Regions from separate parts of the Homo sapiens genome. Here region 2 is linked to region 1. The links come from fine-mapping of genetic effects on gene expression. A gene starts in region 1. The other region holds a variant in brackets. All regions are shown on one strand. Distances are between the middles of the regions.

The links. PIP is the estimated chance that this variant, and not a neighbour inherited with it, causes the effect. A credible set is the group of variants that fine-mapping cannot tell apart.
Region 2: its variant is the best candidate, but not a certain one, in a credible set for the expression of PALD1 in skin (TwinsUK, PIP 0.68).

Annotation. Positions count from the first base shown.
Region 1 is chr10:70,476,726-70,482,089 of GRCh38, forward strand. It overlaps PALD1 (phosphatase domain containing paladin 1), which reads left to right and starts at 2,042. Exons shown (of 20, transcript NM_014431.3): 1 at 2,042-2,334. RefSeq lists silencers at 1,658-1,727, 1,928-2,377 and enhancers at 3,372-4,014, 3,658-3,837, 4,015-4,656.
Region 2 is chr10:70,528,096-70,533,459 of GRCh38, forward strand. PALD1 (phosphatase domain containing paladin 1) reads left to right here. Exons shown (of 20, transcript NM_014431.3): 3 at 1,134-1,236; 4 at 1,794-1,973; 5 at 3,195-3,359; 6 at 4,526-4,686; 7 at 4,900-4,975. Among named protein-coding and RNA genes, the nearest start is that of PALD1, 52 kb to the left of the region's middle. RefSeq lists an enhancer at 642-1,559. The variant C/T (reference allele first, on the strand shown) is at 1,927.

The DNA of each region.
Region 1 (5,364 bases):
GAGTACAAATGAATGTATGGAGACGTGCCAGGCACTGTGCTGTGGGCCAAAAGACAGGTCAGGCACAGGTAGGACATAGCTTTTGTTCTCTGGGAGCTAGAGAGGCACACCGCCGTGGATCCCAGCATCTGCTGGGCAGGGAGGGTGAGGGGAAGCAAAGTGTGTGTATTTGTATGTGTGTATTATGTGCATATGTGTATGTGCTATGTTTCTGTATGTATATATGTGTGCATGCATCCCTATAGGTATGCATGTTTATGTATATATTTGTATACATATATGTGCATGTATGTGTATACATGTGTGCATACACATGCACATGTATGTAAATGTATATTTTGCACCTGCTCACACACATGTTGCTCCTACCTTAGTCCTGGCCTAGAAGAGGACATTATCCTGGAATGCATCCTCAGGATGGCAGGCTTCAGCTGGGGAGTCTGACAGCTGGTGGGATGGGATATGGGGCTGTGGCAAGAGGAAGAAGGAAGGAAACTGTGGCCCAGGATGGAGTCCTAAAGTGTGCCACACACGATGCCTGGACATTACTTGCCCAGCTCACTGGCTTCTCAAATACCTCTTTGAAGGAGGATGAAGCCATCTTATGGATGTAGAAGTTGGGAATCTGAGAACTTACGTCACTTTTCCCAGACCACACAGCCAGTAAATTGTGAGCCACTTTGAGCCTAGCTCTGCTGAACTCTGAAGGTCAGGTCTGTTTCCCAAGGCCACTATGGGATTTTCTCTGCTGCTGTCCTTTTCACACACCTTGGGTGGCGCAGGAGCAGGTATGGAGCTGAGGACAAGTCTTCCCTGGGCCTGTTTCCTCATTTGTTAAAATAGGGATCAGAAAAGTACCGACCTTATAACTTCGCGAGGCACTTAAGAGCTAGGTGCTAGGGACATGGTGAGACCACCACAATGAGTGATTTCTCTTGTCTTCAGTTATTCTTAGGGGTCATGGGGAATGTGTTCCCCTCTCCCAGCCCAGCGCTCTCCAGCCTGACAGAGGTGGGGCCTACACTGCCTGCATCCTGGGGCAACCCCAGCTCGCCGAAATCCAGCTCCAGTCCTGAATGGGGGTGAGGCAGGTGGTAACAGGTGAGAAAAAAGGATTTCCCGAGTGTGGAGCAGCGAGAGGGAGGAAGTGACTCACCAACCACAACAAAGCCTATCTCTCCGCGAGGAAGCACAGCGAAGAGTGAACGCACGCACGTGGGTGCGTTCACCCACGTGCTCGCGGGGGCGTGCGGGGCCGTCGGAGTGGGCCGGGCTGGCTGCCGCCTAGTGCTAGTCCGCGCGTGTGGGGTGAGGAGTGGTGGGGGGGGCAGGCCTATGGTGCGGGTCACTGCCTGGAGCCGCATGATGGGTGGGGGCGGAGGGACCCCTCTCCATCCAAAGCTCTGCTCTGCTGTTCCCCTCTCACCTCTGGGGGCCGAGGGGCGCGTTTCCTTAGGACCCCGGGGCGTGGGAGAAGCCCCTGCTTGGGGGGACCGTCTGCTGTTTAGGGGCTCCCCTTCGACACGTGGGAGGCAAAAGTGCAGAGCGCACCATCATCCAGCTCCGGCCGCACTGCACAGCGAGGCCGGCCCGGAGCCCGGATGCTGGGCTCGGTCCCGCCGAGGCTCGGCCTGGCTGTAAAGCAGAGGGGGGCGAGGGAAGCCGGGCCAGCGGGTGTCGCGGGTAGCCGGCGTCCGGGACGGGGTGTGGCGCCCAGAGCGCTGCTGCCTCTCGCAGCCAGGAGGCTGGATGTCGGGTTTGGGTGTCTTCCAGAAGGAGCCGCACTAGCGACGAGGGAAGAGGAACTGGCTTCCCGGGCAGTCTCCCCCGCCCCAAACTTTTCCTCCTCGCGGAGGGTGGGCGGGCGGAGGGAGGAAGCGCAGCCGGGGAACGTGGCGCCCGCGTTCCTCCCGCCCGGGGGCTGCGGCTGGGCTGAGTGTGTCTTTAAATCTGAGCCCCCCGCCCCTCGCGGTGGGGCCGGGACTCGCGGTCCGGGCGGGGGCGGGCGCGGTGATTGGCGGCCGGGTCGGGTCCGCCCCTCGGCGTTGGGTAGCGGGGCGCTGGGGAGCAGCGCGGCGCGCACGGGCCGGGGCGCGCAGGTCCCGTCGCCGGTGAGCACGGGCTCCCTCTCGCGTGGCCTCGCCGGGTCCGCCTGGCCTGCCCACCTCCGGAGCCACCTCTGCCCCCGCATGGGCTGGCGAAGTTGGGAGGAGCGAGCTGGAGCCAGAGCGCGCGCCGGGCGCGCCCCGTCGCTGCCTGACTCGGCGCCCGCAGTTCGGGCGCAGCACGCCGGCCGCAGGAGCACGGATGCCCCCCGGAGCCGCGGGCTGGCAGGTACCGAAGTGTCCTGCCCTGGGGCTGGCGAGGGGAGGGCAAATCTGGAATCCCCCGGGCACCCCCCAGCCCGAGGCTGCTCCAGACACCAACTCCCCATCCTTTGGAGAGGTGAGGTCCTGGGCCTTCACCCCACACCCGCTCAGGATTGGTCCCTGGGAGGCAAGAGGGACTCACAGGGAGCAGTTGCTGGGTGGTTGTGTGTGTTGGACCCTGGGCTACCCCCTCTCCCGAGTTCCCTGGGTTTGGTGTAGGCATGGCCTGGTGACAATTCCACTTTTCATTGCCAGACCTGGGAGCATGGCCAGGAGCTAGGGTTTCCCGCGAAGTTAGGGGGAGATTGGGGAGAGGGAAGCCGCTTCATGACCGAGATGGGGTCCTGGGACTCATCTCTAGGGGGCGTGAGGCCCTCAGACCCAGGACGAGTCCAGAAGTCTCAGCGGGCACAGGCTTTGATTCTTGGCCCAGTCTGGCCCTCTTCCTCTGTAGGCCCGGGTCTCCAAGGAGAGTACGTTTTTCAGTTTCAGAGGGTTTTCCTGAAGGGGCAGTAACCTGTCAGAGAGAGAGTGGCCTATGGGAGACCCGGCTCCTGAAGGTGGCCGGGATGGTTGGAGCCCTTTCTCTTGGGTTGTCAGAGATGGGAGTAAAGCTTCATGGCCCAGGGAATCTTCTGGGCATCTCTACTCTCCCAGCCAGAGGCCCAGGAACCAACTCCTTGGCTTCTGGGTAGAGTAACCTGAACCCAGTGGCCGAGCACCTCTTAAATGCCAGGAAGGGCACTGGGCCGTGCCCCTGGAATGTGTGGATGGAGGAGGATTTGGAGGATTCTGTCCTCAGGAGGCTCAGCCCCTGGGGGCAAGACAGGACATAAACACACAAAGTTCCCCGATACAGGGTTTCAATACCAGTCCTGAACTGGTAATAGTGGAAAGCCAAGAGGCTACACACCATTAATTGCTATGTGAGTAATGTAGGCTGCGAGAGTGCCAGGGCAGCAGAGATCCAGTTCCATGCAAGCAAGCAAATGTGCTGAAATGTTCCAGCTCCATGCCCGCCCTTCCTTATTACCTTGCTCCAAGGGCAGGGAGCAGCAGGGGCGCTGAGGAGGTTCTCCTGCACTCATCCCCACCCACTCCCAGGTTTGTTTGTTTCCTGCTGGTGGATTTCTGAAATAACCCATTTGGTTTCTTGGCTTGGGCTGAGCACAGGACACTCCTAGTTGCCCTGTGGCTCCTGGGGTTTGGGGTCTAGAGCCAGCCTTGTAGGAGGTTCAGAGGTAAGCAGGAGGAAGTCCTCACTTCCTTTCTGAAGAGCCTCTGTCGCGGGGGGTTGGGGTAGGTCGGGAGGCTGGCAGGCACTGGGCCAGTTTCCTATGAGTGCAGACAGACCCCAGGTGGTGCATGCACCCCCCTCCCTTTCCTGGCCAGTGTTGGGGGTGGGCACAGTAGGGCCCAGGTGGCTTGAGGTGGGTGGTTCCTGGCACAGCTCTGACCTCACTTCTGTGAGGCTCTGCTGTATCTGGGGCCCTGCCCCCTCCCTCATTGTCCCTGGCAGGTTTCTGTTTTTCTGGAGCACTTCGTGGAGGTGGCAGTGTGCTCATGCTCGTGGCCTTGGGTGCAGTTCTGGGAGTGGGAGTTGCTGAGCTCACCCGAAGCCCTTGGCTGGCACTGTGAGAACTTGTGTGAACACACTTGCCTGCCTCCAAACAGGTGGTGCACAGACCTGGGTTACCCAGGCACCTGTGGGGGATGCCCCGTGTGGGCAGAGACGTGAGTGCGTGTGTGTGCTCAGGTTTACATCTGTGTGGGCAGAGACGTAGAGGAGCTGGATACATATATACTTGAGGACAGACACAGGAGGATGGTGGGGGTGAGCAAACAACCCAGGGACACAGACATGTGCGGGGACAGACATACATGAACCCATCAGCGTGGGCCACGTATGGGCTGCAGACACGTACATAGAAATACACCATTGCTGGGATCTGAATCTCCCCACATGGGAGGCAGACATGTAAGTGGACAGACATATAGGTAGACCCAGCAGAGCACAGACGGGGATGGGAACCGACATTCCCAGACAAAAGACTCGGAGCCACAGGGAAGCCGCTCAAGTGCCTGGGCAGAATGGAGTTGGCTGTGAGCTCCTGGGGGGCACAGACACATATGCTTGCCAGAGCCAGCGGACAGCAGAGGCCAGGAACCAGACACAGGTGGGTTCTGAGAGGTAGGCCGAGGCGTGCATTGCCTGGTTATCACTGTTTCCCTGCGTGGCACAGTGCCCGGAAGTTGTCCTGTTTGGGGTGGTGATGGTACAGGTGCTCTGTGGTGGAGCTTATTTCTAGACTCTCACTTTGGGGTTTGAGGACCCCAAAAAGCTCAGTCTCCTGTGTTTTACTCAGAGTCATTTGGCCTCTCCACCTCTGCATTACAAGGCTGTGTTTGTGCCTTAAGTGCCAGCAGGTGCTCTTTGAATTTTGATTCTCATCTTCCCTGGATCTCCAGAGGCTTCCTGAAGTGAGGCTGTGTGGCCTGGGTAGGGTGCTCCAACTGTTCCTTTCCTACCAGAATAGGAGAGGAACTGTCTGGGGATTCTCCTTCTGAACCCAAGCCTGCGGGTCTTTGACAGGGATCCCCCAGGTGAGAGAGAGAGCACACATGTAGCTGCGTCTGTGATGAGAGCCACTGCCCTCTGGGGCGGGCTCCTTCTCTGCTAAGCCGTGGGCTTGCACAGGGAAGGGGTCCCCCACCTGGCTATGCTCAGGTCTCCTCTGCCCAACCTGGCACCTGAGAGACAGCCCAGATTCTAGATATGCTTTGATACTAATGCACCATGCAACCTCCAGCAAGTCAATTAATGTATTGGTTTCCTCATCTTTAGAGTGGGGTCAGTAACCTCTACCTCCTTGTGGGTTCAGTGGGAGAAAATCAGTGCAAAGCATGTGGCCCAGTGCATGGCATGGAGTGAGTGCTCAGTTGATGTGGCGGTGGGGGCCTTTGATTATGAGCCATCCCCTGTGGCCAGGACTCT
Region 2 (5,364 bases), 51 kb after region 1:
CAAAGGACGTGAATTCATCATTTTTTATGGCTACATAGTATTCCATGGTGTATATGAAGGCACTTCTTTTGTCAAGAGGACCTAACATCAGATCATTAACTCTGGGAGGCTCTGTCATATTCATTGTTATCATCAGCACTGGAGCTGTTGTGTCTTGAGGGCACAGTAAATCTTGTTTGAGTGTTTGGACTTTTACCTGGTTTAGCATCTACAGAAATCTTGATTTTTATCTGTGGGTTTTGTTTGAAATAGCCCTGTGTGGAGGTAGAACTACAATTATATTAATAAATGCTTACTGTGCCCCAGGCACTGGGCTAAGCACTTACAATCATTAGCACATTTAATTCTCAGGACAGTCTTGGGGGTAGGAATTCCTGGAAATGAGCTCCTTGTCCAAAGCTATAGAGTTACCAAGCGGTGGGTGGAGTTGGGCTTCATGCCCCAAGCCTGCGTTCTAAACCACCTCACTGTGTGTGGAGTTAGCAGTGTAGGGACTGTCCCTCCAATACAATCTGATGGAGGGACCATCCAGTGATGTTGTCTTCTTCAGGGTACAGGCTAGGCCGCTGTCATAAAGTAACCCAGATAAGATGCCTTCCTCAGGACGAAGCTCATCTCTTACATGCAAGTCCACGAGGACATCCAGGCTGGGATGGCTGCTCCGTGATCATCCAGGCCCCTTCTCCCTCATTGCTCCAACATCATCAACATGTGGCTTCCGTCTTATGATCTAAGATGTTCTACCTCTGCCATCACTTCTGGATTTTAGCCAGGCAGAAGGGGAGAAGACAAAATAGAAGGCACCTCTTCTCTTTGGGAATGGCCTGGAATTTGCACGCACATCACTTTTCCTCACATCATTGGCCAGAACTTAAATCATGTGACCACAATGAGTTGCAAGGGAGGCTGGGAAATGTAGTCTTCAGCTGGGTGGCTCAGTCCTCAGTCACAGCCCTGGGGCTGTCGTGTTGAGGAAGAAGGGAAGAGTGGATATTGAGGGACAATGGGCAGTCTCTGCCACAAATCGTAGCCACAGGGGTTTTCCTGCGGTGGGCTCTGTGAGGGTGGAGCTGGCCTTGACCAAGGAGGTTGCTTGACTCAGTTTCCATTCTGCCCCCCCCCCCCCCCCCCAGGTACAACTGCAAGGAGGAGTTCCAGATCCATGATGAGCTGCTCAAGGCTCATTACACGTTGGGCCGGCTCTCGGACAACACCCCTGAGCACTACCTGGTGCAAGTGAGCTCAGGCCTTACCCTGCCAGCCCGCCTGCTGCCTCCCACCCCTATCTCTCATGAATTCCCTCCCTCACCTCCCTCTGGCCCTCCCCAACTTTCCCCGTCTCTCTGCCCATTTTCAGAACGGGCAGGGCCCTAGGATGGAGCTAGCACCGTGATCCTCTGGTTGATTCCTGGTGCCCCAGCTCTGCCTTCCTACAAAAGCCCCTTCCAGGGGAGCTCCTACCCTAGAGCCAGCTTTGCCTCTGGAGAGCCTCTCCCTGCTCTTTCCTCCAGGCCTGGCTCAGACGTCACCTCCCACATGAAGCCCTCTCTGATGTCCCCTCTGGAGGAGTTGTCTTTCCTTTTCCTACACTTTATGATACCCTTCCCCAGATCACAGAGAGTTATATATTTTGTCTGTTTTTTCCATGAACTGCAGGCAACTTGAGGGCAGGATCATGTTCTTTTTGCCCCTATTTCCCCCCTCCCTGTCCCCTGGAGCCCAGGACAGAGCTCCATCTGCAGAAAATACCCCTGAGCCATCTGAGTGACCTTCCTGTGGCTCTCCCCTGCCAGGGCCGCTACTTCCTGGTGCGGGATGTCACTGAGAAGATGGATGTGCTGGGCACCGTGGGAAGCTGTGGGGCCCCCAACTTCCGGCAGGTGCAGGGTGGGCTCACTGTGTTCGGCATGGGACAGCCCAGCCTCT[C/T]AGGGTTCAGGCGGGTCCTCCAGAAACTCCAGAAGGACGGACATAGGGTAAGTATGCCACTTCCCAGGCAGAAGCCAGGTCCCCAAAGCCAGGGAGAGGGGCACCTTGGAGGGGCAGCTTTAGAGGCGCTGGAGGGGCCTGCTGCATGCTGGAGAGGTGGGGTAGTGGCCTGGACCAGGCCCTGCCTGCCAGGATGGTCACTGCTGTTGGTCTGGTTGGGAAATTCTGGTGAATGTTGATTGCATGTCCTGAGTGGATGGCGGGGCACAAGGTCAGAAGCCTTCATAGACCCTACTTGGGAGCCTCAGAGGAAGCAGGGGGCGTGACCGGGTGACAGGAGGAGCCAGCTCATAATTTGACAGCTTGCTGAATGGTGATCACAGCTAACACTTAAGTCCTGATGTTAGCCCTGTGATGGAGTGGCAGTTTGTCTCCCATTTTGCAGAGGAGGAAACAGGCCCAGAGAAGCTAAGTGACTTGCTCAAGGTCACACAGCTCATGAGTGGTACCCCAAGACCCAAACCCAGGCAGCTGAATTCCCAAGTGCCTGCTTTCAAGGACTGTTCTTACCTGTCGGATGTTGAGGCAGGGTTTTGCGTGTCCCTAGGACACAGGCTGAGGGTCTGCTGCGATTGTAGGCTTCTTGAGTGCAGCTGCATCTGAATTGACCCCGGAGTTAAGGTGGAAAGGCTTTGAGTGAGACAGAATGGGGTGGGGGTGTGGGCTGTGTGCAGGTCCCATCTTCCCATCTTGATGATAAGTTCCTCAAGGGGACCATCTGCCCACACATTTCCCTCTGCCTGTATGGTGCTCAGTGAATGAATGATTGCGTGGTCATGGGGCATTCATTTCTTCAGCTGATGTTCATCAAACACCTGATTTATCCAGGACACCATGCTAGGACACCATGCTAGGAATTATGGGTACATGAAAATGACCAGGACATGATTTTGCCTACGAGGAACCTGTGGTCCATTAAGGGGGAAAAGATGCATTCATTGATAGTACAAAGCAGGAATTAACGCCAAGAGATTCATATGAAGGACTCTTGACCCTGACAGGAGGCAGGGGTCACTGCTGACTGGGAGGGTCACAGGGAGGTAGCATTTGGACTGAGCTTTGTTTCTTGGGTAGGATTCAGGTTGCAGGGATGGTGTGGGGTGCAGGAGGAAGGAACAGCTTGGGCAGAGGCCCTGAGGTGGGGCAGTGGTGCAGGTGTCTGTGCGGGATCATGATGATGGCTTCCTTCCCCCTCGGGCTCCTGGCAGGAGTGTGTCATCTTCTGTGTGCGGGAGGAACCTGTGCTTTTCCTGCGTGCAGATGAGGACTTTGTGTCCTACACACCTCGAGACAAGCAGAACCTTCATGAGAACCTCCAGGGCCTTGGACCCGGGGTCCGGGTGGAGAGCCTGGAGCTGGCCATCCGGAAAGAGGTGAGGACCAGTGCGGTGTGCGGGAGACCCCAGCCCACAGCCCAGCTTTGCAGATGCTCTTTTTGGGGCCAGCTCACCTGCTCTTACTGGCCCGTGTTCCCCCACTGTTGTGCCCTGCTTGGGTGAGTGGCTGGCTGCAAGGCTGACTCACGGGCAGCCAGAGGAAGGACTTCCTATTCTAGCTCTCTTTGCCTCTGCCCCTTTCCCACCCTGCTTGTCTCCTTGATGCTCAATGTCCTTATTTAGAAAGGGGTCTGGTGGGCCGGGTGCAGTGGCTTATACCTGTAATTCCAGCACTTTGGGAGGCCGAGGTGGGCAGGAGTTCAAGACCAGCCTGACCAACGTGGTGAAACTGTGTCTCTACTAAAAATACAAAAAATTAGCTGGACGTGCTTGCGCATGCCTATAATCCTAGCTACTCGGGAGGCTGAGGCAGGAGAATTGCTTGAACCTGGGAGGCGGAGGTTGCAGTGAGCCGAGATCACACTACTGCACTCCAGCCTGGGCTACAGAGTGAAACTCTTTCTAAAAAAAAAAAAAGAAAAAGAAAAAGAAAGGGTTCTAGGTGAGTGAAAAGAGCGCTAGACCAGAAGGACCAAGGCTGCAGTTCAACGCTTTGAGAGCCACGAGCCTCTGAGTCAGTTCCCTCAGTGGGTCTGTGGGCCTGTTTCAGTATCCTCTGTCCTCCTCCTCCTCCATAACACAGAGGCTTGTGGAGGCCTCTGAGGCAGCTGACATACCATGAAGGTGTGTGAATAGAGTGTGGGGTCCCAGTGTCCCCAGAAACTTCCAGGTCAGGAACCGAGGCCATGCCGGCGCCCAGCTCTTTGCCTCTCCCATCCCCTCCAGGCCTCCTGTGTGCTCTGCTCCCCTCGGCTCCAGCTCCCAGCTGACCACACCTCCCCCGTCCTGGCACTGGTGGCTTTGTGAATTCCTGCACCCACTGGGCAGAGCCCTCCTGCCTTGCCCCTGTGTAGGCACCCCGATTCCTTCAGAACTCCCAGGAATGGCATAGAGAGCACTTCTGGCTGTGTAGTTCCCTCATGGGGGGCAGAAGCCTGCCTGTGGCCTCTGCATGGTCTGGTCACTCCAGAGCTCAGCCAGGACACTCAGGGAGGGTCTTGAAGTTCAGGCCATGGCCCTCTGACCCCCACACCTCCCTCTAGATCCACGACTTTGCCCAGCTGAGCGAGAACACATACCATGTGTACCATAACACCGAGGACCTGTGGGGGGAGCCCCATGCTGTGGCCATCCATGGTGAGGACGACTTGCATGTGACGGAGGAGGTGTACAAGCGGCCCCTCTTCCTGCAGCCCACCTACAGGTACCACAGGGCCACCCCCAGCCCTGGCCATGGGTGCTCCAGGTCCTGCTCTCCAGCTGCAGCCTCAGTTTCACCATCTGCAGGTTGGGCGGAGTCCCCCACACCCATGTCTCCCACAGTGGGGCCCATTTCCAAACAGTGCCCGGGAATAGGGGGTGAGGGGGATTCCCAGAGTGGGTGCCTGCCTGATGGCTGCTCTCCCTCACCTGGCAGGTACCACCGCCTGCCCCTGCCCGAGCAAGGGAGTCCCCTGGAGGCCCAGTTGGACGCCTTTGTCAGTGTTCTCCGGGTAACTGGGGCACGGGCGCGCATGGGGGAGGAGTCTTGAGAGTCGTCCCCATGGAGGTGCTCAGGGTGGGCACAGCCTCTCGCCTTCCTCAGAGGAAGGCTTCATTCTGTGTTGTGTATGTGAGCATGTTAGGGTGGACGTGTGTTGGTGTCTGTCTCTGTATATGTCTGTGTGTGTCAGCGCCTTTGTGTGTGTCTGTGGGGAGTGTGTGTACATGTTTATGTGTCTCTCTGTGTGTCTGTGTGTTCCTGTCTGTGTGTCTCTGTGTGGGGATACATGTGTTTCTGTGTGTGTATGTGTCTGTGTGTGTATGTGTTTGTGTGTGTGTACCTGTATGTAGGTGTGTGTTTGTGCATTCTCTTATGGCAGAGTCCATCACTGACCGCTGG